Linked DNA regions of Homo sapiens. The protein of the gene in region 5 purifies or fractionates together with the protein of the main gene of each other region. This does not show direct contact. Each region holds a gene or a part of one and is shown on either strand. Other genes may lie near its edges. The genes, in order: NDUFA13, P4HA1, SAMD13, CPVL, L3MBTL3, E2F6 and GRHL1.

Evidence for each region.
Region 1: the proteins of L3MBTL3 (region 5) and NDUFA13 purify together in Homo sapiens (affinity purification with mass spectrometry; one large-scale study listed by BioGRID and IntAct). This does not show direct contact.
Region 2: the proteins of L3MBTL3 (region 5) and P4HA1 purify together in Homo sapiens (affinity purification with mass spectrometry; 2 studies listed by BioGRID and IntAct, with this or other methods). This does not show direct contact.
Region 3: the proteins of L3MBTL3 (region 5) and SAMD13 purify together in Homo sapiens (affinity purification with mass spectrometry; 4 studies listed by BioGRID and IntAct, with this or other methods). This does not show direct contact.
Region 4: the proteins of L3MBTL3 (region 5) and CPVL purify together in Homo sapiens (affinity purification with mass spectrometry; one large-scale study listed by BioGRID and IntAct). This does not show direct contact.
Region 6: the proteins of L3MBTL3 (region 5) and E2F6 purify together in Homo sapiens (co-immunoprecipitation; one study listed by IntAct). This does not show direct contact.
Region 7: the proteins of L3MBTL3 (region 5) and GRHL1 purify together in Homo sapiens (co-immunoprecipitation; one large-scale study listed by IntAct). This does not show direct contact.

What each region holds. Positions count from the first base shown.
Region 1 is NC_000019.10:19,522,376-19,526,328, forward strand, and holds part of NDUFA13 (NADH dehydrogenase [ubiquinone] 1 alpha subcomplex subunit 13), read left to right. Parts: intron 1-3,806; coding exon 3,807-3,885; intron 3,886-3,953. UniProt on the Homo sapiens protein: Accessory subunit of the mitochondrial membrane respiratory chain NADH dehydrogenase (Complex I), that is believed not to be involved in catalysis. Complex I functions in the transfer of electrons from NADH to the respiratory chain.
Region 2 is NC_000010.11:73,048,075-73,052,027, forward strand, and holds part of P4HA1 (prolyl 4-hydroxylase subunit alpha-1 isoform 2 precursor), read right to left. Parts: intron 3,176-3,953; coding exon 2,979-3,175; intron 1-2,978. UniProt on the Homo sapiens protein: Catalyzes the post-translational formation of 4-hydroxyproline in -Xaa-Pro-Gly- sequences in collagens and other proteins.
Region 3 is NC_000001.11:84,300,104-84,304,631, reverse strand, and holds the start of SAMD13 (sterile alpha motif domain-containing protein 13), read right to left. Parts: upstream 2,925-4,528; 5' UTR 2,831-2,924; intron 1,982-2,830; exon of another isoform or gene 1,942-1,981; intron 1,430-1,941; coding exon of another isoform or gene 1,398-1,429; coding exon 1,345-1,397; intron 1-1,344.
Region 4 is NC_000007.14:28,996,287-29,000,239, forward strand, and holds part of CPVL (probable serine carboxypeptidase CPVL isoform b precursor), read right to left. Parts: intron 1-3,953. UniProt on the Homo sapiens protein: May be involved in the digestion of phagocytosed particles in the lysosome, participation in an inflammatory protease cascade, and trimming of peptides for antigen presentation.
Region 5 is NC_000006.12:130,133,293-130,137,245, forward strand, and holds part of L3MBTL3 (lethal(3)malignant brain tumor-like protein 3), read left to right. Parts: intron 1-159; coding exon 160-329; intron 330-550; coding exon 551-613; intron 614-3,953. UniProt on the Homo sapiens protein: Is a negative regulator of Notch target genes expression, required for RBPJ-mediated transcriptional repression. It recruits KDM1A to Notch-responsive elements and promotes KDM1A-mediated H3K4me demethylation.
Region 6 is NC_000002.12:11,455,834-11,459,786, forward strand, and holds part of E2F6 (transcription factor E2F6), read right to left. Parts: intron 2,520-3,953; exon of another isoform or gene 2,460-2,519; coding exon of another isoform or gene 2,448-2,459; intron 1,401-2,447; coding exon 1,346-1,400; intron 1-1,345. UniProt on the Homo sapiens protein: Inhibitor of E2F-dependent transcription. Binds DNA cooperatively with DP proteins through the E2 recognition site, 5'-TTTC[CG]CGC-3'. Has a preference for the 5'-TTTCCCGC-3' E2F recognition site.
Region 7 is NC_000002.12:9,992,805-9,996,757, reverse strand, and holds part of GRHL1 (grainyhead-like protein 1 homolog), read right to left. Parts: intron 3,784-3,953; exon of another isoform or gene 3,552-3,783; coding exon 3,514-3,551; exon of another isoform or gene 880-3,513; coding exon 788-879; exon of another isoform or gene 443-787; coding exon 357-442; exon of another isoform or gene 331-356; intron 1-330. UniProt on the Homo sapiens protein: Transcription factor involved in epithelial development. Binds directly to the consensus DNA sequence 5'-AACCGGTT-3'.

The DNA.
Region 1 (3,953 bases), on a different chromosome or scaffold from region 5:
TGGTGTCATATCTAAGAAACCTAGTTTGAGGTCACAGAGAGTGACTTACATTTTCTTCTAAGAGTATTATAGTTTCAGCTCTTACGCTTAGGTCTTTGATCCTTTTTTTTTTTTTTTTTTTGAGATGGAGCCTTGCTCTGTCACACAGGCTGGAGTGCAGTGGCGCGATCTAGGCTCACTGCAAGCTCCGCCTCCCGGGTTCACGCCATTCTCCTGCCTCAGCCTCCTGAGTAGCGGGGACTACAAGTGCCAGCCACCACGCCCGGCTAATTTTTTGTATTTTTAGTAGAGACAGGGTTTCACCGTGTTAGCCAGGATGGTCTCGATCTCCTGACCTCGTGATCCGCCTGCCTTGGCCTCCCAAAGTGCTAGAATTACAGGCGTGAGCCACTGCGCCCGGCAGGTCTTTGATCCTTTTGAGTTAATTTTTGTGGATGGTATAAAGAAGGAACGCATCCTCATTCTTTAGCATGTGGCTGTCTGGTTATCCCATTTGTTGAAAAGACTGTTTTCTCTCCCATTGAATTATCTTGGCACCTTTGTCCAAAATCAATTGACCATAAATGTGAGGGTTTATTTCTGGACTCTCAGTTCTGTTCCATTGATGAACATCTCTGTCCTATGCCAGTGCCACACTGTCTTGTACACACAGCTGTGGGATAAGTTTTGAAATACTGAAGTGTGAGTCTTTCAACTTTGTTCTTTTTCAAAATTGTTTTGGCTGTTCTGGTCCCTTGCATTTCCATATGAATTTCCCAACCTGCTTGTCAGTTTCTGCAACAGGAAAAGAAATGGTTGGGATTCTGATGGGGATTGCGTTTCAAATCTGTATCAGTTTGCACAGCGTTGCCATCTGCACAATGCTAAGTGCTCCAATTCTTGAACACAGGATGGGTTTTTATTTATTTTGGTCTTCTCTTAAGAATGGCCAAGGCCGGGCTCAGTGGCTCATACTGGTAGTCCCAACACTCTGGGAGGCTGAGGTGGGAGGATTGCTTGAGGCCAGGAGTTCAAGACCAGCCTGGGCAACATAGCAAGACCCTGTTTCTATGAAAAATATATTTTTCTTTTTTTTTTGTTTTTGTTTTTGGTTTTGTTTTCTGAAACAAAGTTTTCTCTGTCACCTAGGCTGGAGTACAGTGGTGCCATCTCAGCCCACTGCAACCTTGACTTCTTGGGCTTAAGTGATACTCCCACTTCAGCCACCCAAGTAGGTGGGACCACAGATACGTGCCACCACATCTAGCTAATTTAAAAATATGTATTTTGGGCCGGGCATGGTGGCTCATGCCTGTAATCCTAGCACTTTGGGAGGCCGAGGAAGATGGATTTACCTGAGGTTGGGAGTTCCAGACCAGCCTGGCCAACATGGTGAAACCTCGTCTCTACTAAAAAATACAAAAATTTAGCTGGGCACAGTGGCGTGCACCTGTAATTCCAGCTATTCAGGAAGCTGAGGCAGGAAAATCACTTGAACCTGGGAGGCGGAGGTTGCAGTGGGCTGAGATCGCACCACTGCACTTTAGCCTGGGCTACAGAGCGAGACTTTGTCTCAAAAAATAAAATAAAATACGTATTTTGTAAATGTTTCACTGTGTTGCACAGGCTAGTTGCAAACTCCTAGTCAAGTGATCCTCTCACCTCAGCCTCCCAAAATGCTGGGATTACAAGCGTGAGCCGAAAAAATTTGATCCCACCACTGCACTCCAGCCTGGACAACAGAGAGAGGCCCGGTCTCCAAAACCAAAAACAAAAAGAATGGTCCACACACCCTTTTGTGCGTGCCCCTCACCATGTTCCCCACCAGACTAGCAGTTCCTAAGGCACAGACTCTGAGGCCTGGGGCCTTGGCCCCCCTGTGGTTGGCGAGGAGGAAGAGCCCTGTGCAGGCTGCATGCAAATACAAGAGGCCCTGCATTGTTTCTGTCATCTCATACATCTCTGTTCTATGCCAGTGCCACGCTGTCTTGTACACACAGCTGTGGGATAAGTTTTGGAATTTATTTCTTCTTTGGAATTTATCTTACAGATGGGCCTGCGTATGAGTGCGCAGGTGTGAGGGTGCAGGTTCTCCCCAAGGGCCCATTTTCTGCACCAGAAGGCTGAGGGCAGCCCAGGTCTGTCCCCTGGGTTCTCTGTAGCCGTGGAAAATAATGAGATATGGCCGGGCACGGTGGCTCACGCCTGTAATGCCAGCACTTGCAGGTGGATCATGAGGTCAGGAGGTCGTAACCAGCCTGGCCAATATGGTGAAACCCTGTCTCTACTAAAAATACAAAAATTAGCCTGGCGTGGTGGTGGGCGCCTGTAGTCCCAACTACTCCGGAGGCTGAGGTGGAAGAATCGCTTGAACCCAGGAGGCAGAGGTTGCAGTGAGCCAAGATCTTGCCACTGCACCCCAGCCAGGGCAACAGAGTGAGATTCCGTCTCAAAAATAAATTAATTAAAAAAAAGAAAAGAACGAGATATGACCAGCCTGGGCAATATAGCAAGACCCCATCTGTACAAAAATTAGTTAACTGGACATGGCACACACCTGGGGTCCCAGTTACTCGGGAGGCTAAAGTGGAAGGATCACTTGAACCCAGGAGTTGGAGGCTGCATTGAGCCATGATTGCGCCCCTGCACTCCAGCCTGGGTAGCAGAGTGAGACCTTGTCTCAAAACCAAAAACCAAAAAAGGAAAAAAAAATGAACAAGGCAGCTGATGAAACCTCCCATGTGCTAGACAGGAGGCTGAGAGCTGGGAGCTGGCCCTGAGCACCCTGGGCCTCTCCAGAGATGTGCCTCTGAGCCCGGACCCAGCACACCCTCATTACCTGTAGTATGGAAATGTCTTAGCCCTGACTTGGGCTTCTAACAGGTTAAATAACCAGGTACAAATTTGAGCCAGTTTCTCATTTATCTCCGGGTCTAGCAGAGGTGCCCCCGTGAGCTCCATGCTGGAGCAGAGCTGAAGGCAGAAGAGCATGACAGGTGCAGAGCAGGGCCCGGCAGGCACAGAGTAGCCCCAGCAGGCATAGAGCAGGGCCAGTGCCCTGGAGGCCTGGAGATGGCCTTGCCTTCCACCTGCTGGTCATTTCCTGGGTGTTGACTGGAGCCTGGCCTACCTGAGCTTTTCATTCATCCCACCAAGTGCAAAGCCTGTCCAGAGAAGAGACTGGGGCTGGAAGGATCTGGAGGGTGCAGGGTGAGCCTGGGAGCCAGATCCCAGACAGCCCAGGCCTCTCTGAAGATCCCAGTGGGCCCCCAGCCTGTCAGTCAGGATTAGAGCAAGGCCCCACTGGTGCTCAGTAAATATTCATGATGGCCTAGGTCCTTCCTGGGGTGCAGGGCAGGGGGCTTCACCCTGCAGAGCCAAGAGGTAGCACGGCCACCCCTAGAGTCCGGGGGGTGGCTGGGCAGCCCCCACAGGGCACTGCCTGTCCCTGGCAGCTGTGTGCAGCCCCCGCAGGGCAGCACGCGGAACTGTGGCCCAGGTGGCCGGGAGCCACCATGGACACTGTCAGAACTGCCCTTCCACTTCAGGGCCAGCCTGCCGCCCAGGGTCCAAACAGCCTTCTAGAACACGATGGACCTGGGGCCCCCCTAGCAACCACCATCTAGACCCTCAGGCCTCCTGAGGTTGCTGCCTGGCTTGTACCTTTCAGAAAACCCCTGGCATGGGGGCAGAGGTGTCACAGTCCAAGCAGCCTCACTCCTGAGAAGCCGCCAGTGTCCCCTGATTGCAGAGTGGGCAGCGCCTGGAGCTGTGGAGGAGGGTGTCTGGGGGCGGGCTGGCCCGCTGAGCAGCGCCTCTCTTCACAGGCTACAGCATGCTGGCCATAGGGATTGGAACCCTGATCTACGGGCACTGGAGCATAATGAAGTGGAACCGTGAGCGCAGGTAGGGCCCCTGGTGGGCGTTGTCTGAAAGTGCCCCCCCGGCGAGTTGTCGGGGTCCTGTAGCATTCC
Region 2 (3,953 bases), on a different chromosome or scaffold from region 5:
CAAGTATGTCACATAAGCAGGAATATGAGTAGTCTGTTTCAATTATTATACTAATAGTATACTAAAACAAATAATGATTCATGTTTATTCTCCATGCACTTTACCTAGAGTCAAATCCAAGGCTTTAATTTTTAGTAAGTCTTTTATATAATGATGAGATGAATGTAGCTATTCTGAGAAAAAGAATTTTTTGTTTTTGTTTTTGTTTAGACAAAGTCTTGCTCTGTTACCCAGGCTGCACTGCAATGCCTTGATCTCGGCTCACTGCAGCCTCTGCCTCCTGGGTTCAAGCAATTCTCCTGCCTCAGCCTCCCAAGTAGCTGAGATTACAGGCCCCTGCCACCATGCTCGGCTAACTTTTTGTATTTTTAGTAGAGATGGGGTTTCACCATGTTGGCCAGGCTGGTCTTGAACTCCTGACCTCAGGTGATCCACCCACCTTGGCCTCCCAAAGTGCTGAGATTACAGGCATGAGCCATCGTGCCTGGCAAGAATGTTCTTTTGATCTTAGGCAAAGTTGAGTATGTGTTACATTAACAAACCGGGAAATTAGCAGACTCTTTGTTTTATATCTACAGTTTTATTTTGTTCCTTAAGAGTTATTAAGAGCAATAAAAATTTCTGCTTACTGCGGAAATTTGAACACTAGATATTTGATATTACAAAACTTGTGAATTTTTAGGTGATAATGGTATTGTAGTTATTTTGAATTTGTATCTTTAAAAGATACATACTAAAATATTTAGTAATGAAACAGAAAAGAAAATGTTTAATGAGGGAACAGGTGCAGTGGCTCACGCCTGTAATCCCAGCACTTTGGGAGGCCGAGGCAGGCGGATCACGAGGTCAGGAGATCAAGACCATCCTGGCTAACAAGGTGAAACCCCATCTCTACTAAAAATACAAAAAATTAGCTGGGCGTGGTGGCAGGCGCCCGTAGTCCCAGCTACTCAGGAGGCTGAGGCAGGAGAATGGCGTGAACCCAGGGGCCGAAATGGCGCCACTGCACTCTAGCCTGAGCAACAGAGCGAGACTCCGTCTCAGAGAAAAAAAAAAGAAAATAATGAGTCTAACAGTGTCACCATCTTTGTATTTACTCATTAGCTCAAGCATGTCCTCCTAGGACTCCATGAACCTATCTATTGAAAGTGTCACCATACGTATTGTATACTTTGCTGTTAGTGGTTAAGCTGTCAACAGTCATCAATATCGAAATGCAAAGCCCAGCTTGAGTTTACCAGTAGTAAAGAAAATGTTAAACACTTTTCAAATGTTTACACCTAAAAGTACTTACTCCAAAAATTCACTAACTCCTTCTATGCAAGCCTGTGTTCAACTGAAAACTAATACCACATGAAATTCCTTTTCAAAAGGTTCCATAATCAATTAATATTGAGAAAGAATGTATATCATATCACAATGCACATTATCATAAAAAGGTTCTGAGAAGTTTTGAGGCTAAACAAAAACCTATGTTCAACTTTGTTTAACAAATGTTCCCCAGACTTTGTTCTTTTTGCTTTTGGCCTAGTATCTATTAACATCTATAGAACTGGAATTCTGAGTTATAAATACATATACAATAAACAAAGTAATATTTATAGATATATTTTAAAGAAATATTAAAGACAAAATCTGTTGAAAACTTTCTGCATTTTCAGTATTAAACAGACTAAAGCATTTCACTAAGCAATCTTGTGAAGATTAACTAGGAGCAAAACTACAAGGGATTATTGTATAGATGAATCTGTTGTATCTCATAAGATGCACAGAGTAGTGTTATTGTCTCTAATTAAGGCTGCTGAACAGATGAGTGTGGTGGCTGACGCCTGTAATCCCAGCACTTTAGGAGGCCGAGGCGGGAGGATCACCTGAGGTCAGGAGTTTGAGACCAGCCTGGCCAACATAAGGAAACCCCGTCTTTACTAAAAATACAAAAAAGTTAGCCGGGCATGGTGGCGAATGCCTGTAGTCCCAGCTACTTGGGAGGCTGAAGCACAAGAATTGCTTGAACCCAGGAGGCGGAGGTTGCAGTGAGCCGAGACTGCGCTACCGCATTCCAGCCTGGGTGATAGGGTGGGTTTCTGTCTCAAAAAAAAAAAAAAAAATACTGCTGAAATCTCTCTTGCATTAAATATAAAAAAAACTATCACTTCCTTTAAACTTATTTGATCCTTCACCCTGGAAGGATCAAATGAAAAAGGTAATATTGCCCCAAACATATGTAATAGTATATGATTCACAAGCTTTATTTTAAAGCTATTTTACTAATAATTGGAACATATTAAATGTGGCACCCACAGAGAGAGAATGGTATACTGTAATTTTTTTTTTAAAGTTTTTTAGGCTGGGCACAGCAGCTCACGCCTGTAATCCCACCACTTTGGGAGACCAAGGCAGGTGGATCACAAGGTCAGGAGTTTGAGACCAGCCTGGCCAACATGGTGAAACCCCATCTCTACTAAAAATACAAAAATTAGCCGGGTATGGTGGCGGGCACCTGTAATCCCAGCTACTCAGGAGGCTGAGGCAGGTGAATCGCTTGAACCCAAGAGGCGGAATTTGCAGTGAGCCGAGATCATGCCACTGCACTCTAGCCTGGGTGGCAGGGTGAGACTCCATCTCAAAAAAAAAAAAAAAAGTTTTTTAGAGACAGGGTCTTATTCTGTAGCCCAGGCTGGAGTGCAGTGGTGTAATCATAACTCACTGTGCCCCTGAACTCCTGGTTCAAGTGATCCTCCCACCTCAGACTCCTGAGTAGCTAAGACTACAAGTGTACACCAGCATGCCCAGCTAATTTTTAAATTTTTTTGTAATGGGGTCTATGTTGCCTAAGCTGACATACTGTAATATTTTATGCAGTCATTCTGATTTTTATCACATAGGCTTAAATATAAAATAACTGATTCTCTCCAGAACTGTGTACAAACACATACACACACACATTCACATACACACAATTGGCTTTTCCACTTTACCATTTTGATACCCTCCCCACGGCACAGCATTTCGTACTTCTGTCTCTCTGGCAGGTAATCCACAGCAACCCCTTTTTTCTTTGGTGTAGTTTTCTGATCAGATTGGTCATCTGAAGCAGACTTATTGACATCTTTTTCTTTAGCCATTATATACTCAAAATATTTTAAGTTACCATTAGCTCTCTGATGTTCAGGATCTATTAGAAGAGAAACAAAGCATGTCCATGGGTAAGTTCATGCTTGTTCAAGCATCAGAATATAGTAATATAAAAATAGGAGACATTATAATTTATCTTCCAAACCAGGTTGCTGTTGTGAGTGAAAGGAGGCACTAATAAAAATTATTATACCAAAATAATAGGTATAAGTTACTACTGCCCCCAAGTAAATCAGGACATATAGTCACCTATATAAAAACAGTTCTGGGCCAGGCCTGGTGGCTCACACCTGTAATCCCAGCATTTTGGGAGACTGAGGTGGGTGGATCACCTCAGGTCAGGAGTTCGAGACCAGCCTGACCAACATAGTGAAACCTCGTCTCTACTAAAAATACAAAATTAGCTGGGCGTGGTGGTGGGTGCTTGCAATCCCAGCTACTCAGGAGGCTGAGGCAGGAGAATCACTTGAACCCGGGAGGCGGGGGTTGCAGTGAGCCGAGATCATGCCATTGCACTCCAGCCTGGGCAAAAGGAGTGAAACCCTGTCTCAAAAAAGACAGTTCTGGAGACAGAAACAGCTATTTATTTAAAGGTGGCAACTGGTGCTTTTACTTTGAGAATTTACTAATCAGCTAAAGGAACTAAGTTCAATTTGATGTCAAATGAAGTTTAAAATCTTACTCATCCTACTTATTTTAAGAAATGAAAAAGATTTTTCCAAGACAGAAAAACAATCACATGAGGAAGACAGGGGATAAGCAATTCAAAAGCAACCTTTACCACAGATACATTATAAATGTAGCCTACTTCTAAGGGC
Region 3 (4,528 bases), on a different chromosome or scaffold from region 5:
AAATTTTGGAAGTGATGGAAATATTTGTCATCTTAATTGTGGCAGTAGTTTCAAGAGGGGATAAAAATATCAAAACTTACTTTACACACATGCAATTTATTATGCAAGGATTATACTTCAGTAAAGCTGCTAATTTTAAAACTAATTACAATTAAGTAAAATTAAAAGTTCAGTTTCTTACTTAAACTAGTCACATTTCATATTCTTCGTAGCCACATGTGGCTAGTGGCTACCATTTTAGACAGCACAAATACAGAACATTTCCATCATTGTTGAAAGTACTGTTGGATAACACTGATCTAACTCACACATAAAACAGCATCTGTTTCTTTCATTTCTCCTCCACCTACCTACCCCAAACTTTAGGGATGGTAATCAGCATGGCAGTATGGCACTGATATATAAATTACCCGAGAACTTTAAAAAACAGATTTTATTAAGTTAGTTTTAATGTAACTTTGCTGTGAAGCAAAATATACCTTCTATTCATAAACATATAGCACACTGTTTCCTCATTTAGATATCACAGCTTCTATGGATTATATTTAATTAGTTTCCTCCAAAGCTCAAGTTGACGGCAATTTTAAACTAAATGATATGGAAAGAAATGAAACAGATAACTCCCTCTTGGAACTCACTTTCTCCTTGTAATCAAAGTACTTATTGCTTTGCTATAACTCCTAAGTGAGAATATACATTTTTCATATACTCATAAATATCAAAATATTATGTTACATGTGCAATTGAATTTTCCCATTTAAAATAATCAAATATATAACTCTTACATGACACATATAAACACAAGTTTCAAATGTGAGAACAGACTTTAAAATAAACACCATGTATGCACAGAAATGTTTCACATTCATTAAACAGTTCATAAAATTAGGACGGAGGAGTTGTTAAACTATATTCTTACTGAAGCTTTTTCCCTTCCTGCACTATAGCTCTTAGTTTTCAGAGTTAGAGGTGATTGTATTTCAAAAAAAAAATTTGAACTCTATTTTCTGCCCCCATTCTGTGTTGTCTATGGAAGAGTCTCTGCTTGGAGTTTTTGTTTCAATATACAGAATGCAGGGCTGAAATCCTCAACCATCCTTGTTCCAAAGCCTGATACACAAACCTTTCATATATATTTTGATGTCTGAGTCATCTCTGTCTTAGAAATGCAATACAGAAAAAGGTAACTGGGGTAGGGGGGAGAAGGGAGGCTGCTGGCCAGTGTAGACAAACCAAGGCGACCCCCAAACTGTGTATTGTAGTAGATAAGCAAGAAGTACGAAAATAGAAACTAAGTCCCTCTGTTGTTTGCAGAAGCAGAACTCAGAAGCCAGCTTCACTTACTTTTTTACACCGACAGAGCCATTTTCCTTGTTTTCCATGTCAACAGATAGCATGGGAAGGCTGCAGGGTTCCTTTACTTCAGCAACTAATCAATAAGGGAGAAAAGCTTGTGTTTAATTCTTAGAAAGTGAGAGAAGAATATATATTCTGAATCGGAAACATAATGGTCCCTTTTACAGCTTCACACCAGTTCACGTATGTTTGTTTAAATCTCCAGTTCCCTCGGCGATTGGAGAGATGTGATTAAACCTAAAGAACTGGAGGAGACGGATTGGGGTGCTTTCATCTGTACTGGCACTCCCTGCCTTGACAATAAGCATTTGCAAATGAAATTGAATCCTCGTTGAAAACAAGTGCTGTGTGAACTGGCACAGCTTCTTCTGGGTGCCTAGCTCTCACTTAAGACACTGCAACTCATAAATGAGTCAAAGTAGAGAAAAACAATCCCCCTTTTCCTGCCCCCCTCCCATTATGGGCTTTGATTTGTTTTTTCTTATTGTGTTTGGTTTTTTTTTTGTCCACTCCCCCTTGCTCCTAGATTTTTTCATTGCAATGCAGAAGGACACTTAAAGCTTTTGTCAGCAAGTATTCCCCTACCTCACATTCTCAACGAAAGCCTCAAAAACCCGTCTGTGAGATGGCCATGCTGTGGTAAAGCAGGAAGCTCACAAAAAATGCCAGATAGCCCTTAGCACAGAAAGGTGGTGCTGGTGTGTGTGTGTGTGTGTGTGTGTGTGTGTGTGTGTATGTGTAAGAAAGAGTAGGTAACTCATTAGATTTATGAAAAATCATCAAAACATTTAAGGAGATATTGTAGCATCCATCACTCTGTCTTTTTGTTTAGTAGGATGAGGGCTGTGGAAAATTAAAAGCCTTCCACAATTAATATGCAATTAGCAAAATGAAAAAGCTACGAACAAAACTGCTTTAAGAAAAAAAAAAAAAAAAAAGGAAGAAACAGTCCCGAAACGTGTTTGCTCTTATTCAGCTGAAGCCATAAATTAAATACATTTCCACTCAAATCACTTTATACTTCGGCACTCCTTCTCTAGGGATTACTCTGACATGGCAAGTGCATCATTTAGTATATTCGCAAGATTTTATCACTGTTAGAGAAGTAGATGATTAACAAATAACACTGTAAGTGTGGGATAATTTTCACTCCTGAAACACACACATACACACAAACTTCCAGCTGCAAACCACTTAGATCATTGATAGAGAAATCCAACATTTAATATATATATATAGATATTAGCATACATTCACACACCGTTAGAGAGTAGACAGGAAGATAGTGCTGCTGCTCCATGCTAACAGAATATGATTTCACTTCAGTTGGAAACTGTTACACATTCACCATTTTCTAAGCATCTCAGAAAACAAAACAAAACACTCACAATGATACTCTGCAACACCACACTACATTGTCTTATTATTATTACTATTATTTTCTTTTCTGTGGAAGAGTAAAAAGAAAACCTACCTATAAGCAACTAAAAAATATCATTTTTTATAGGCTTATCAAGAACAGCCAAAGAAACCCCAATGTTTTCTTTCACAAAGTAGGCTGGCAAAGGAATTCAATAAGGAGGTACAATTTGACACAGTGAAATAAAACCAGGCTGGCTCTCAGCCAACATGACGTTAGGAATCACACACAAGCTGCACCAACTGCCTTCTGGTTCATGGCTGACTTTTTAAAGCTACAGTGTGCCTGTTCACTTTTGCTAACTACCTTCAGCACAATTAGTGCAAGAAATGAGTAAGGAGTCCAAAACCTGCAGAATTCTCCCTGCACCTGTCTTGTACAAAGAAAAACAAGCTGTCTCAATAGCTTCTTATTTTCTCCCTCCCCTTCATTGTTGCTGCATGATAGGTCTTAGCTGTTGTTCTGAGCATGAATGTCATGTTTCAAACTATTTCCTTTTCTCCCCAGAGGGAAAAATAAGAGTGAGAAGCCAGTGCTTATGGGCTATAACCAGAGAACACTCGGAAGCTGCAGTCCCATGTTACTCTTTTTTTCCTAATAGAGATTCATGGACAAAGTTCCCAGGGCTGGCTTTTAAGTAATCTCTTTGTGAGAATAAGGAAAGCACTGCCCAGCAGCAAATCCTTTTACTTCATTATGCAGGAAGTAACATATTTCGGAAAGGATGCAAAATAGATGACCAGATCTCCTGAAAACGCCCACATTCTTTTATTTTGGCATTTATCCTGCCAAATGAAGCCAGCAAAAATTCAAACTGAAACAAACAAAACCTTATTCTACAAAACGAAAACAATTAGTTCTGGGAGGTTTAATTTTAACTGTTTATCCCAGTTGGACAAAAAGCATAATTCAAGAAATTTAACCAACACTTACAATCTATGAGTACCCGGTACTATATTAGTTACATATGAATAGAAAGACATTATGCCCACCCCAAAATTCATAGTCTCTCCCGCCATCATCCTAAATACCAAATCAGAAAACTGGGAGGTGGAGCAGAGAGGCTGGGCAAGATCTTTTGTTTAAGTTACCCTGGTCATTCTCACAGTTCCCTTGCTTGGCTTAAACCACTTTTCCAGGAGAATAATCTCATCCCATTAATGTTCTGCACATACACAGAAAACATACATGGTTGCCTCTTCATTGAAATAAACATCAATCAACATTTGGACACTTTTAGGTCAAGATGGTCAACAAAACCACTCAAGACAGGGCACAGAACACAGGTTCCCCAGAAAGATCCTGGAAAAAGTTATCACTTGCTGTAATATCCTGTAGAATTCAGGTAGAATCTGAGGAAAAAGCTGCCTGCTTCCCTTTTTAAAAATAATCTTTTAGGACATTAGGAGATTACCTTTGATCTAAATTTGGAACCTGAATTTCAAGGTCAAAAAATTTGTTCTTTACTTATTCCAGGAATTATATTAGAAATTTTTGACTTCCTTGAAGATCAGTGCCAAGAAAGATTTCAAATATTTGCCATTGCTCCCTTGAAAAGGCAAACAATAGTAATCTAGGAACCAATTAAATATTTTTGAGCAGTATTTTTTGAGCATGGGTCAGGCATGTGGATCTTTCACCAGTGCTGATCTCAAAATGATGGACTTTTATGTAGATAAAGAGCTCTTTCACTAACAGATTCCTTAACGCTTTTGGACTTGATCTGAAATTCCTGAACTATTCTCCCAGTAA
Region 4 (3,953 bases), on a different chromosome or scaffold from region 5:
TACTTAATTCCACCCTTCAGTTAGCCAGCCCAATTGTCCCTCACACTGAGCCATACCTTCCATTTTAGCCTTTATCAGTAATGAAGGGGAAATTTTGGTTCTCAAAAAAATTAAAAAACCAAAAACATCCTTGACTGAGGCAGGAAGATGACCTGAACCCAGGAGTTGGAGTCTGCAGTGAGCTAGGATCATGCCACATGCACTGCACTCCAGCCTGGTTGACAGAATGAGACCCCATCTCTTAAAAAAAAAAACCAAAAAACAAAAAAAAAAAAAACAAAACAAAAAACTTGACACTTGAAATGAAAGAAAGTCATGTTTTGAGCAGCATAGAGTTAGAACATTCTTTTTTTTCCTAATATTGGATTATAAAACATTTTAAAACATAGCAAATTCGAAAACAATTCATATAGTGACGATTTTGAGTCATGAACTTTCACTTTACTTGCTTTCTCACATAAGGGTGCCTCTATGCATCCCACACCCATCCACTAATCCATCTTATATTTTTGACACATCTCAAAGTAAAATGGGCATGTAGTGCACTTCCCCCACACACTTCAGCATCACATTATTCATCAGAGTTCAACATGTGTTTACAGATTTTCTTCTTTTGAGTCAAGTTAAGATACAATGAAATGCGCTAGTCTTAAGTGTAGACTCACCAGTTCTGACAAATGCAGACACCTACGTAACCCAAGCCCTTGTTGGGTGATATAAAGCATTCCTAAAACATCTCTAATGATGAGATCCAATCAGCAAAAGGGGACTGGTCTCTGTACTCGTTAAGCCTCTAGCGTCAGCTAATATTCCAAGTAGAGGGAAACGGGAAGCTGTCATGATTCAGTGCCAAAAGGGCAAGGACTGACACTGAGTGTTGGGAAGTTACATGCAGGAGAGGTCAGCCTGGCCTGAGATGTCTCGTTCCATATGTGGAGAATGGACAGGAGGTACCAGTGCATGAAGTGAATAAACGTATGCAAAAAGGACATCACTTTCAGTAACTTCTAGCTGCAGAATCACGATCAGCAATTAAAGGTCACCTTCACAAGGCCCTTCCTAAGAGGCTGGGTTCTTCTACTTGTCTCAATCTGAAGGAAACTGAGGCAGAAAAAGTATATTTGGATAGTACATTTATTATATTGAAAATCTGCCCCTATATCCCAACACCCTCCATCTTACAACCTTGACGTGCAGTAAGTAGGATTAACACTATTAGATGATATTTACCTTGCAGCTCGCAGCTATACAAGCTGTGCACTGAACAACTACAGGGAGCACCATTCACATGAGCATTGAGATGACTGAGCTATTTGGAATTATTCAGTGGCTTGTCCAAGTCACACAATTGTTAAGTGAGATAACTAGCTAGAACCCTGACTTCTGATGCAAACACCGGTGTGGTGTTTTTAATCAAACCCTCTACTCAATCATTCCTTATCTTTGAACTGAAATTTGCAGCTTAGTCACGGAACATTTTTATTCACCTCTCAATAGCCCTCTGAGGTTTATTGATGAAAAAAATTATTGCAGATATAAACATAATTTTCTGTATTTTTGTATTTCACATATTACAGTGAGGGAGGCAGATCCCATTTGCAGATGTGGGACCAGACTTAACTCTTTCACATGCAAATGTGAAACTTTTGTGTTTTGCTGCAGTTGATCAATGGTCATTTGTGCCTCACTGCAATGACTGTGAAACCCATCTACCATTTGTGTAGAAGCTTGCAACTGGAAACCCAGCATGCCCACTTTTTATCACAAACTGAAAGTAAACATGTGTGACAAGAACCCCTTCATAGGACTCCAGAGGGAAACTTTTGCCGCCCCGCAATCCCAGGCTAGACATTTCTTCCTGCAGATTTTCATCCATATCTTTGGCCCTGGCAGGAATCTGATGAGTGATTTCTGTGCAGCTTCAGCTCAGCTGAGGACACTTAACAAAGTCATATGTGTGACAAAACCCAGCTGCTTCAACTGGAAATGAGTTTGGCAGCAATGGTCCGGAACACCAATAAATTGAATACCCAAGAGCTAAAGGTCATCCTGCCCCCAGAACCAGTGCTGCAGCTAACAAAGGACAAACAAAGGATAGCACAGTGCTTCACAGCCTGGGCTCAGAAGTCAGAGTGCAGGAGCATGGCAAGAGGCACTGCACGTTGTGTGACCTTGGGCAAGGAACTTAACCTCACTGAGCCTCAGGTTCCTTTACTTTACAATTGGGAAACAAGTATTACCTCGTGGGGTAGTTGTGAGTTGTGTGAGGAGTTAGTGGAATAATGTCCCTGGAATACTTAGCACAGTGCCCGGCCTGGGATGGTCTTCAGTAAATATTGGTCATTTTCGTTATTCTTCCAACACTTATCTATATTGAAAATCCAGAATCAAAATGCCTATATCAGGAGGATTGCTTGAGATCAGGAGGATCGCTTGATTGCAGGAGTTTGAGGCTACAGTGAGCTGACTGAGCCACTGCACTCCAGCCTGGGCAACAAAAGGAGATCCCATCTCTAAATATAAATGAATATATATGTATATATGCTTATATGAACCTAAACTACCCTAGAACATGGTGTTCCTACATTTTCATAAAAAACCTTGGTTTAAAAAAGGTTGTTTAAAACAATGGTTCTTGGCTGGGTGCAGTGGCTCATGCCTGTAATCCCAACACTTTGGGAGGCTGAGGTGGGCGGATCATTTGAGGTCAGGAGTTTGAAAGAGCCTGGCCAACATGGCGAAACCCTGCCTCTACTAAAAATTAAAAAAAAAAAAATTAGCCAGGCATGGTGATGCACGCCTGTAATCCCAACTACTGGGGAGGCTGAAGCAGGAGAATCACTTGAACCTGGGAGGCAGAGGTTGCAGTGAGCTAAGATGGCACCACTGCACTCCAGCCTGGGCGACAGAGTGAGACTCCACCTCAAAAACAAACGAAAAAACAAAACAATGACTCTCAAATTTGAACGTGCATAAAAATACCTGAGCTCATTAAAAGAGATCGTGAGGCATCACCTCCAGACTTTCCAATTCGGAAGGTCCAGGGCAGGGCCTAAGAATTTGCATATCTAACAATTCCAAAGCAATGCTGATGCTGTTGTTCCAACTGCTTGTTGAAAACCACTGTTGAGAATTTTTTTCTACTCTGTGGCAAACCAGGGAATTCTCTGTTTACATCAAGGTAATTTGATTAACACCTACTCATGAATACAAGTAGAAATTTGTTTAATACCTACTCATGACCTCACTTCCTGGGTATCCGCTCTCCTGGTATTTACTCACGCACATGCGCACTCACACACACCTTCCCTGTCCATAATTATCAAGTGGTGAAGGAGCGCTGAAGGGGTCAGGTGTTCTTACTCTTCCTCTCAGTGACCTACCTGACCCTGGTCCAATTTCTGAGCTGCCATGTGTAATGACCCTAATGGCATTGTAAATTGTGTCATTAATATTGCGGGAAGAGAAAGCTTGTTAAGGGACAAAGTTGTTTCACATGCCACAAAATTCCCAAACAAAGCATATTCTTAAGCAGATTCACATACAGCATTTTACTGATATTAACTTCAAAAATAAATATATTTTTGAGTGTGGAAAAATAAACCACTCTTGTTTATAATCAAGCCACTCACCATTCACAAATCAAAGATAACAGACCACTTGGCAGCTTTTAGAGGTGAGTAACAAAATGTGTCAGGGCTGTAATTACGTATTTAAATGTGACAAGATTAATCTCAGGGCTCCCTGAATAGAACTGTCTATTTTGGGTGCCTCCACACTAGAGCTGCAGCCTCTAACTTCATGTGTTCCAGATGTTCCAGGGGGTCACAAATGTGTCATGAATTTCAACAGGGTTATACAAACACTTTAAAGCTTCATTCCACTTTATTTTTTAGAAAACAATATAATTCTCCCTGGAACTAGAAACAAAGACCTGCCAGTAAAGGTTTCCC
Region 5 (3,953 bases):
CAGTAAAGACAAAGAAGAGCCTATTCAATAGTATAATGCTGAAAGGAACCAATGCTTTAACCACTCCCACCTCCAGTCTCGTTATCTGGGAGATGCACGGCATTTGGGGCTTTCTTGCTGCTTTCAGAGAGTGATTTCCCATTTGTTTTCATTGACCAGGTGCCCGGGAAGAACCCACCGTCCAGCAGGCACAGCGTCGGTCAGCTGTCTTTCTGTCCTTTAAGTCCCCAATTCCATGTCTGCCCTTGCGCTGGGAGCAGCAAAGCAAACTTCTTCCAACTGTCGCAGGAATCCCTGCCAGTAAAGTTTCCAAATGGAGCACAGACGAGGTATATTTTATTTTCTTTGCTGCCCGACACCAGATACAGGATTACTGGCTTAAGAGGTGTGGAACATTGAGCGTAGGTAGCGTTTAGTCTTTTTTTTTCTGAAAGAGAAGAAATTATTGTGAGAGAAATAACTAATGCATATGGGTTAAATGTTTTGAACCTGTAGCATTTAGATTCTGACTGTGTTTTTTAACTGGGAATTTTGATATTGCTTTTGACAGGTGTCAGAATTTATACAGAGCTTACCTGGGTGTGAAGAACATGGAAAGGTATTTAAAGATGAAGTAAGTATTCCACTAAATTGCAATATGTTACTTAATGGGATCAAAGCACTGAAATGCAGTGGAAGGTGAAATGTGTGGAATTGGCAGAGTCAAAAAGAGATGGGGTGTGTTGAAATTGACAAATTGATGTATACTAACAGGCAGTATGAATCAGTTGTATAAAAATGTCTTTGTATAAGATGAGATGCATAAGAATGTTTGTGAGTACCATTTTATGATACCCCACAGCAGTAACACTAGGCTCCTTATAAAAAGAAAACCCACAGAACTTAATAGCATGCATTTATATAGTTTATAGCACAGAGGAAGCCAAAGAAAGAAAGAAGCAACATTTTCTCTTTTTAATAAAGTGAAATTAGTTTCCATTATTTTATTTTCCAGTGTCATTCTAACAACACCATGATTGACTCCATTTGAGGTTTATAATAAGTAATATTAGCATTATGTCTAAAAAAATCCCTTAAGTCATATACATTCCTCAATAATGTTTATAATAAGATATTTATCACAGTCCACTTTTGGAAGATTATTTTATTAGTTGTTTTCAACTCCCTCTCCAAAACTTCAATATAAGGGGTGATTAAGAATGATATCACTTACAGTGAGCACTAGAATAAAAAGGAATCTGGTTTCTAACTTTTAATTCTGTAAGCGTACAGCAGGAGACCCTTTTCAGTAGAGACCTTTAAAAATAAGCCACTTGCCTGTCATCTCCTCCAAGCAAAGCAGTCAATTACCCCTCTGATTTTGGCTGTGTCTACTCCTGCCAGAAGGCAGAAAGTAGACTGAGTAATCTCAGAAGGTGCTCTCCAACATCTGCTGTCTACAGTTACACGCATACACAACTTGTTTGCCCCTATGTGTAAAGCTCAACTGTTAAGAACAGCACACTTTCCATTTCATTGCAGGAGTATAGACACAGCTAACAATCCAGCCACCAGTTGTCAGTGTTGTTATACTGTTAGGTATAATTTATGCGTTAGATGAAAGCTTGTTAAAATGCACAAGGATCTGATTTCCAACATCCTTTTTCTGATTTATGTTCTTATTGTGCAAAGGTTTTATTTTCTCTCTGTTTGATCTTTAATTGGCAGTTATTCAGATTTTCTTTCCCTAAGTCCTGAGTGTCTTCACTGATACTCTCAATTCATTTTCTGTTTTTTCCTTTTTTTTTTTTTTTTTTTTAAATCGAGATGGAGTCTTGCTCTTCTCTCCTGGGCTAGAGTGCTCACTGCAACCTCCGCCTCCTGGCAGAGGCGATTCTCCTGCCTCAGCCACCTGAGTAGCTGGGATTACAGGTGCCCGCCACCACGCTCGGCTAATTTTTTTTGTATTTTTAGTAGAGACTTGGTTTCACCGTGTTGGCCAGGCTGGTCTCGAACTCCTGACCTCAGGTGATCTGCCCACCTCGGCCTCCCAAAGTGCTGAGATTACAGACGTGAGCCACCGTGCCCAGCCTGAATTCATTCTGTATCGCTGAGCAGACTTAGAGCCACATAGGGAGCTGTTGGTCTGTCTTGGAAAATGTCATGTTGTCATTACCTTTGAAAATAATAAAGCATTTTTGAAAATAAATTTATAATGCATCTCTTTTATAACTTCTGTTTTTTTATTCTGTTGTTATCTAGATAATCCCTATAGGTTTGCTCTATTATTCAGTTTGAGTAAGATTCAAGTTTAAATTCAAAATGAGATGCTATTTTTTGAGTAATTTTTTTTATTCATGGCAGATTGTCTTTGGAGATGTTCCTCAGTTACCAAATATGCTCAAAGCTAGATCCTTTTCTGGAGGAGTGAGATAGTTAATATTCTCTGTCGATATGAATTATTCATTCATTTACTCCTTCATTCATTCATCTTGTGCACATTTGTTAAATTCCGACCATGAGTATGTTACTTTGTGTCATGCTCTTGTGAGAAGGATGATTCGAAAATAATGAAACCTAGTCCTTGTTCTCAAGTGTCTCACAAGGTCAGTGGGTTTGGGTTTTGAGTCCTACAAGTAAACCATAGTACAAATCTAACCGAAGTCTTATAAATCATCTTTAAAAGGCAAAGGACAAGTATTCAGATAGGCTGTTGTTGGAAATTATCCTTGACTTCTCTCTTACACATGCCACATCTCATCTGTTGAAAATCCTATTGGGTGTATCTTTGAAACATGTAAAACCCTTATCACCCTACTGCCACCACCACCCTGGTCTGCGCCACCATCCTCTCCCACTTGGATTAGTGCAGTAACCTCCAAACTCATTTTCCTGCTTCTGTTTTTGCTCCTCTACAGTCTATTCCCAGCACAGCCAAGGTTACCCTGCTGAAACATAAGTCAAACCATGTCACTCCTCTGTTCAGGTCCTTCCAATAGCTTCATCTCTCAATCAGAGTAAAAGCAGAAGTCCTTACAAGGGCCTGCAGTCTGACACCTCATTACCTCTCTTGCCCCCTGGCTTTTTGTTTACACTGCCCCTCACGAGTCTACGTGCTGGCCTCCTTGCTCTTCCTCTGATTGTCCAGGCTTGCTCCCGCTCCTCCTTCTGCACAGAACACTCTTCCTCCAGATGTTCATGTGGCTCACTTCTTCTGCTCAGATGCCAGCTTGCCAATTAGTCCTGCCCTGACTTTCTTACTTGAAATTGCCTCTTGTCACCACACATGCATCCCTGCTCCTGCTGCCCATTCATCTTCCTAGTCAGCTCTGTTTAATCATAGCACAAATCACCTTTTTTTTTTGAGACAGAGCCTCACTCTGTCGCCCAGGCTGGAGTGTAGTGGCACAATATTAGCTCACTGCAACCTCTGCCTCCCAGGTTCAAGCTATTCTCATGCTTCAGCCTCCCAAGTAGCTGGGACTGCAGGTGCGTGCCACCACACCCGGCTAATTTTTGTATTTTTAGTAGAGATGTGGTTTCACCATATTGGCCACACTGGTCTTGAACTCCTGACCTCAAGTGATCCACTGACTTCAGCCTCCCAAAGTGCTGCAATTACACTCATGAGCCGCTGCTCCTGGCCAACATGAGTCACTTTCTAACTTACTAATTAATTGGCTTACTTAGTATGTTTATTGGCTTATGGTCTGTCTACCACTTCTAGAATGTAAATTCCACAAAAAGTTTTTTGCTTGCTTGGTTTTATTTGTTTTATTCCCTGCTATATGTCTAAGCCCAAGAAGAGTGTTTGGAATATAATAGACATTCAGTATATTTTTGTTGAGTGAATACATTCATGCCTTTACACTCTGAGAAAGACTCACTCAGACAGAGCATGTCACTGTGGTTTCGAGTTAAGGCATTGGAAAAGAACAAATAGTGAATAGTGGAAAGGGCAGTGAAATGGAAGG
Region 6 (3,953 bases), on a different chromosome or scaffold from region 5:
AAGAAATCAAACCTTCACTGGAGGGGGAAACTGGGAAGGCCTCTTGATGGGAGTACACTGGGCATAGGGAACAGGAAGGCGAATGGGCGGTGTTTGCCCACTGTGACAGAGGGTGAGGGGCTGAAGTGAGGGAGAGGAAACCACACCTCAGAAGACAAAGCAGACTTAGAGAACCTGGGGTGCTTTGGGGATCACAGGTGGTGTAGCTTGTGCTGTGGAGGAGGGCGGCAGCATGCTGGAAGAAGAGGCTGCGGCATTAAGCAAGAAACAGCCTACAAGGGCCTGGTCTGCTCTGTCTACCCATTCTCTACTGCCTTGTTTCTTTTAATATGAAGTGGCTTATGAATTTAATGCAAACACTTAAAATCAAATATACAAGGAATCAGGGTTTTCTCTACATGTAAAAGAGCGTCACTGAAGAACTTAGGTTGAATGATATCATAATCCAATTTCTGTATTAGACAAATCCCCCTGGATTTTTCCAGCATCCAGGTTGGAAAGCCTGGAAGCTGACTGCCTTCTAAGAAGGAGACCCAGCAACTTCAGCTACAGAGGAAGTTAGACCCTGAACGAGAAGAAGCAATTCAACGTTGTGGTAAAGACTCTGGGCTCTTGCGTCAGAGAGGTAAGAGATTCAACCCTGACTCTGAGCAACTCACCTCAGCCTCTCTGGGCCTTTATAAAGTAAGAATTCTAATCCATACCTATATTTTGAAAGGTCATTGTGACAATCCATGCAGAGAGCTTAATGCAGTGCCAGGCACTGTATGAGCTCAATAAATGTTAGATATTATTATAAATTGGTGGTATGGGACAGATGCAAGAAACACATCAAAGGTGAAGCTGACCAAACTCAGTGACCAACTATGGGTGAGACTGGGGCAGGCACTGAGGCAAAACTAAGGGTGAGTATTTCTAAGATTCACACTGACTTATCGATGCACTATGTATCCACTGAGATTAGGAAGCTGAGGTGGGGCGGTCTATCATGGAAACTTCCAGAAGAGGGAACTAGAGCCATTTACATCCTATCGCCTCTAACAGATACCCTAAACATTAACCTAAGATAAGGGACAAGAAGGAAAGAGTACATTTCTCTCCCAGGAGGAATTCTGAGAAAATAGCCTTAAATACAGACTGTTCTATGGAGAATAAACTGGCATTTGTGCACATGATTCAACCCATAACCTCAGGAGTTGTTACTAAAACTTGCAACTTTACATTTCAGTGTACACATAACAAATTGTATTTCAGTTTCTCATCAACTCATACACTTAAACAAATCATTTTAATCATAAGAAGTTCAAACTAACAAAACCTAAAACCTATTCAGGAATCAACTTACTTCTCATGGACACATATTGTACATTATCTTCTAAATTAATCCTTATTTTTGATGGCTGAAAAAAAAGATAAAAAATTTAACTTAGTGATTTTAAAACAACAATGCAAACAAATAGCATTTTACTCAATAGTATAAAGGTCTGGGAATATGAATATGATAATTACTGGCTGGGCAGAGGCTCACGCCTGTAATCCCAGCACTTTGGGAGGCCGAGGCAGGTGCATCACTGAGGTGAGGAGTTCGAGACCAGCCTGGCCAACATGGTGAAACCCCATCTCGACTAAAAATACAAAAATTAGCCGGGCGTGGTGGCAGGCACCTGTAGTCCCAGCTACTTGGGAGGCTGTGGCAAGAGAATCGCTTGAATCTAGGAGGTGGAGGTTGCAGTGAGCCAAGATCATGCCACTGCACTCCAGCCTGGGCAACACAGCAAGACTCCGTCTCAAAAAACAAAACAAAACAAAAAAACATGCACACACACACAAAATATACTGAATACATCAGGTACGATCATTACAACACTGTCCCTGACTTGGGAAAGCTTAGTAGAGATAGAAGATCTATCTCAACCAACACATGCTCACTCCTTGCTATTATTAAGTACACGTGGTTCCCCAAAATTTGCTCACAAGCTTTCATAGGCAGCTATGCATTCCCATTATAATTAATGTAAAAACAGCAGCATTTCTAACAATGGAAAACAATGCATGCTGTGGGTAACTAGAAACTTTTGCGTTAGATAAAAAGTTTCTTTTAAATTCCTGAAACAACCAGGAAATTAGTAGAAGCTCCATTATCAATGCTCACCATTTTACCAGCTATTTAGAGGCTCTGAAAGTTTGCATAAAACTGGTAGTAACATTTAGAAACTGTTTTTCTGTAAAAAATAAATAAAATGAAACCAAACCTTAAAATGAAAGCCTATGAACAGAAACTCCTAGTAACATCAATGTTAATGTGCCTCCAGACAGGCTGTCATCAGGTTTAGCTCTTATCTAAGAAAAAACTGGCCATAAAGCAAAACTGGGGCAAGTGAATTCATAGGTACTCTAAGAAGAGAATCAACAGCAGTACTAGGGATACACCCAGACAGGGAACTCACAGAAGGATTCATGGCGAAGGCAGCCCTCAGCTGAGCCTAGCCCAGCAAGCCAGATTTGCCTGAATAAACAACTGTGGGGAGAGAAGAAAAAAGACAGGATTGTGGTACCGGAAATGAACAAAGGTGTGAAGATGTATATGGCATGGCATGTTTCTGGGAACCCACTGAAGTGGCCAGTGTGTAAGTGACTTGACTTTGAAGCTGGGAGGGCATGCTGGCACCACATAAAACTAATGCTAAAGAGTTTGGACTTTATGTCATAACCAGTAGAGAATCACCAAAGGTTTCTGAACCAGACTAGGACATAATTAAGTAAATGGTTTAGAAATATAAGTATGGCAGCAATATGGCAAAAGGACTGGGAAATGAGGAAGCCTGAAGGCAAGGTGAGCAGTTAAGAAGCTCTTTGTTTATACTGGTGTTAACAATATCCTCGGCACAATGATTTCCTTATCATCTATGACAAGATGATAGCATCTATTAACAAATCACCCCAATATGGAATACTCCCATTGAGACAGAATCCCACTGTAAAATTAATTTAGTTGTTAGAATTGAACACGTAGACCTGCTAGGGCATGCAACACTGGAGCTGGGAATGCTGGCCTTGGGGGTAGGGACTAGGTCTGGCCAGCTCTCTCAAACAGTGCTGACAATGGTGACTTGCAAACATGGTATCCAACAGTGAAACTCTGAAGCAGTCCTATCAAAGTCAGACATTAGACAAGTGTGACCAACTGCCATTGCTATTTTTACATTTAACCCCTCTGCTAATAGTATGAGACGGGCCAGCTACGGTAGCAAGATTCTTGAATGGAAAAAAAAAAAATCCATCCTTATCACATTGATTTGAAACACACATAAACAAACATCCTAAATCCTTATATATAAGCTCAGAGGGGCCTTGCTGCAGAGGTTCCCGTTCTTAATTCAGAGTAGCAGGCCCAGGACTTACACACTCTACTTACTGGCTCCCAAAGAGGCTGCCTCGCTAGCTATGCATTCTAGGGTGTCTTCTCTGCTACACACCTCCCTACCCATCTCATCTAGACAGTGGATCACAGGTTGGTACAGAAATAACACCTCAGTTAGGCATAATATGAAAAAAGATGGCTTTGTTTTCCCCACTCTTTGCTATCAATGCAGTTCCATTACATATTGGCTATACTGATGTATGTGGGAAAACAGTCTCCAAGAGCATTCATTTGTTTTTTTTTCCTCTTCAAATACAAAAACACTCTATCTTGGAGGAATCACAACAGTACCATTGCCCCTCAGTGGCAGACATCATATACAGACATATAGATAGAAACATAAGTCCAGGCGCGGTGGCTCATGCCTGTAATCCCAGGACTTTGGGAGGCGGGGTGGGGGGAGGAGATCACAAGGTCAGGAGTTCAAGACCAGCCTGGCCAACATAGTGAAATCCCCGTCTCTACTAAAAATACAAAAAATTAGCTGGGGGTGGTGGTGGGCACCTGTAATAAAAGCTACTTGGGAGGCTGA
Region 7 (3,953 bases), on a different chromosome or scaffold from region 5:
CCACTGTTTTTATGTATGAAGTTTTTAAGATTGTACTTGATTAAAAATCACTTTTGTTAGCTTCTAAGTGGCTTGCTAAATGGCAATCTCCCTTTAACCACGTATATAAAAATTAAACATTTCATAGGCCATCACAGATGCATTCACTTCAGTGGAACAGGTGTGACTGAGTGACTGTGTGAGTTAAGACCCCTGGGTGAGGATAAAATGTGGGACGCACGACGACTCGAGAAAGGTGTCAGGGATTCCAGAAGGTCTGACAAAGGATTTGGATCATCTGATAAAGTGTTTCAATGAAATCCTATGTACTTGTCCTTTCATTTTGTACAGGGGATTACAGAGTTGATCCTACTTACAGCTTCCATCAAGCCCTTCAAAGATGGGGTTTTGAGCATCAGGGCATCAAAGACTTCTTCTGACTCCTTTCGAACGTAGAGCAGCACTAATCAATCCCCAACCAGGAATAAGGAAGGGAAAAGAGAGGAAAAAAAGGATACAGTTCACATGAGCAAAAGAGGAAAACAGACCACGGTACCAGCTAAAATAAAAACCACATTCACATCAAGGATGACAAGCATCAGCCAATATCAATTCTGTCTTAAGGAACACAGGTTTCAGCTTCTCTGAACTTTGCTCTAAGTCCTAGCTCAAGCTAGATGTCAGTCTGATGGAAGAATTCCCAAGCAAGTGAAACTGGGAAAAATGTGCTTGAACCATTTATGCTTTTGATAGATTCTGAACTCACTTCTGATTTAAAACTCCCACTAAGAAATGGAAACGAACACACCTCTCTTTGGTTCTTCTATCCGGGCCAGCTTGGTAGAAGGAGGGACAGCAAAGTCATCTTCTGTGCCGTACGGCCCCCTTTTCAAGACAGAGCTGCAGTGATCCAAAATATGCCGTTAGTGATTCAACTTAACCAGCTGCATCAACATTAAGGTGTTTTAGAGCCTGTCATGGAACTAGATTTAAAATGACTTTCATTCTTTATCTGGTCCAGCTTCCTTATTTGTGGATGAAAAATCAGGCTAAAGGAAGATCCTGACTCCAGGGCTCATGGATATTTACAGGCAGACATGGGACCACACTCAGGTTCCCTGCAGGTATCTGCACTCTCATCAGATAAAGCTGCCTTCTCGAAGATGAGGCGCTTTGGTTTTTTTTTTTTTTTGTGAGACAGGGTCTCATTCTGTTGCTCAGGCTGGAGTGCAGTGGTGCAATCATGGATCACGGCTCACTGCAGCCTCAACCGCCCAGGCCCAAGCAATCCTTCCACCTCAGCCTCCCAAGTGGCGCACACCACCACACCCAACTAATTTTTTTATTTTTGTAGAGATGGGTTCTCCCTATGTTGCCCAGGATGTTCTCAAATTCCTGGGCTCAAGCGATCTTCCTACCTTGGCCTCCCAAAGTGCTGGAATTATAGGCATGATCCACCACGCCTGGCTGTCTGGTGCTTCTTTTCAGGAAACACTCTATGGAGGAGGCAGGATCTGAGATAACCTTGTACAGGCAGTGACAAAGGAGATGATGTTTCAAAACACTGAGGAAGTGTGAGCAGGAAAATGCAGGGCCAGCCTGGCTCAAACAGAATGGCCCACAGGAAGCCATATCTAGAAATTTCGGGAAGCCGACTCTACCGTGAATGTCCTGATCATTCAGCTCTAAGGAATTAAATTTTACATGGCAGAGAAGAGGGAATAGTTGAAAGGTCTGTGAGACTGAGTGTGGTACCCAAAGTGTGTTGGTACCCAAAGTGTGTGGTCAAGACTGGAGGGGACCCCAGGACCTTCAAGCAGAAAAACCAGGGGAAGGAGGCTGGTATAATCCGAGCACAGGATTCCACAGGTTTAAAATATGGTGGTATCATGGAAGCCAAAAGGTGAGAACAGACCAAGGAGAGTCTGAGGAGAGAAAAACTCAGATCGAACGAACGCCTGGCTACCAGGGGCACCTGGCATGGAGGGTCCAGCAGGTGGTGTCACGGCAAGCAAGAGAAGAGGTAGATAACTGAAAGTGAAGGGAGGGAGTGCTGGATTTGGAGCAGAATGGCCACTTCAGGAGCAGGGGCTGAGCCTCCGAGACTCTGCCACCTCAGTTCCTAACACACAGCAGCCGTCTAGTGAAAGTGCCGGCAGGACTCAAGCCTGAAACACTAAGAATCAAAGGGGCAGTGCAGGCCTCGCCTTCAAAGAGAGGCACGATGGGTAACGTGTGGGGCATGAATGTCCCCAGTATGACGGTTTAAGCCCTGGGAATGGATGGAAGATGAGGGAAGAGGGATGCTGAGGAATGAACTTCCCATGGAAATCTTGGCTCTCTCCATCAGGATGCACCTTTCTGAGGGCAGATAACAGAAAGAGGGAGGCTGAGGCGGGAGGATTGCCTGAGACCAGGATCTCTACAATAATAATAATAATAATAATAATAATAATAATAATAATAATTAGATGGGTGTGGTGGCATGTGCCTGTAGTCCCACCTACTCAGGAGTCTGAGGCAGGAGGATCACTTAAGCCCAGAAGCTCAAGGCTGCAGTGAGCTGTGACTGCACCCCTGCACTCCTACATGGGCCTCAGAGCAAGACCCTGTCTCTAAAAGTAAAATGAAATAAAAACAAAAAGAATCTTTGCCTTGTTGAAAAAGTCCCAGAGCCATCAAGAAGGTTCTGATAGCCCAAAGAGGGGTAGCGTCAGCCCCCCTCCACTAGGCAGCATGAGTAGGGGGCTGCCCGGCACAGGAAGGCAGAGCCCAATTCTGGGACAACCTGAGCATCAAAGTAAATGACTAATGAATCACAGCTTATTGAATAAAACAGGAAACTATGAGTTCATACTGATAGCAATAAATGAACGAGTAAACTGAAAGTTTGATGGGGAATGAGATATTTACAAAGCTACAATGCACCTCCCCAGACAACACTTACTATAAAAGGAGCCACTTTGCAGTGGAGAAGCTGGCAGATACCAGCTTAATCAAGTGACCAAAGAACACCATTAGTAACAGATAAACTGACATCAAGCGCCATCTGCTAGGACACACGGAGAACCCAGCCTGGCCTCTATGACATCCCTGCCAGGCCTGGAATCTAACCATGAGAGAGCAGCAGACACACGCAAACTAAGAAGAGTCTACAAAACAGCTGGTTGTAATCTTCAAAAATATTTGGTCAGAAAAGTTAAGGAGTGGCTTAGTTCTAGACTGAAGAAGATCAACAAACATGACAAACAACTACAATGTGTGATCCTGAACTGGATCCTTTTTTGCTATAAAGGACATTATTGGTGCTAATGAAGCAATGTTAATATTCTAATCTTGACTGTGACACAGGAGGATGTCCTTGTTGGTAGGAAATATATACCACGATATTCAGGAGTGATGGGCCATCAGGCTGGCAACTTATCCTTGATGGCTCAGGGAAAAATGAGTTCTTTGTACTGTACTTGCAGTTTTTCTACAAGTTTGAAATCATTTCCATTATTAAAACAAAACAAAACAAAACATAAATCTTACCCTTCACCCTCCAATTCTTCAGAGGCAATGGGAAGGACCTAAGACCAAAGGAATAGATTGCTTTTCAAATGTATGCTCAAAATGTTTGGCCATAAATGAATTATTCCTAAAATGGAAATAATTTTGAATTTCACCAATCTAATATAAAATCCTTTAGCCTTAGTTTTCAATAACAGATTCTTACAGATGTCTTGAACTCCTTTAACTCAGTGGTTGGGCCAAATCTGGTCTAAAGCCAGTTCATGTAAATAAAGTCTTTACTGAAACAAAGCCACGCTCATTCATTCACATGCTGCTTATGGCCATGTGTGCACTAGTTCGGCAGCACTGAGCAGCACAGTGGAGACCACGGGGCCCCAAAAGCTGAAAACCTTTACGGCCCAGCCCTTCACAAAAACAGTGTGCTAACCCCTGCTCACCTCCAGCTTCCCATTAGAAAC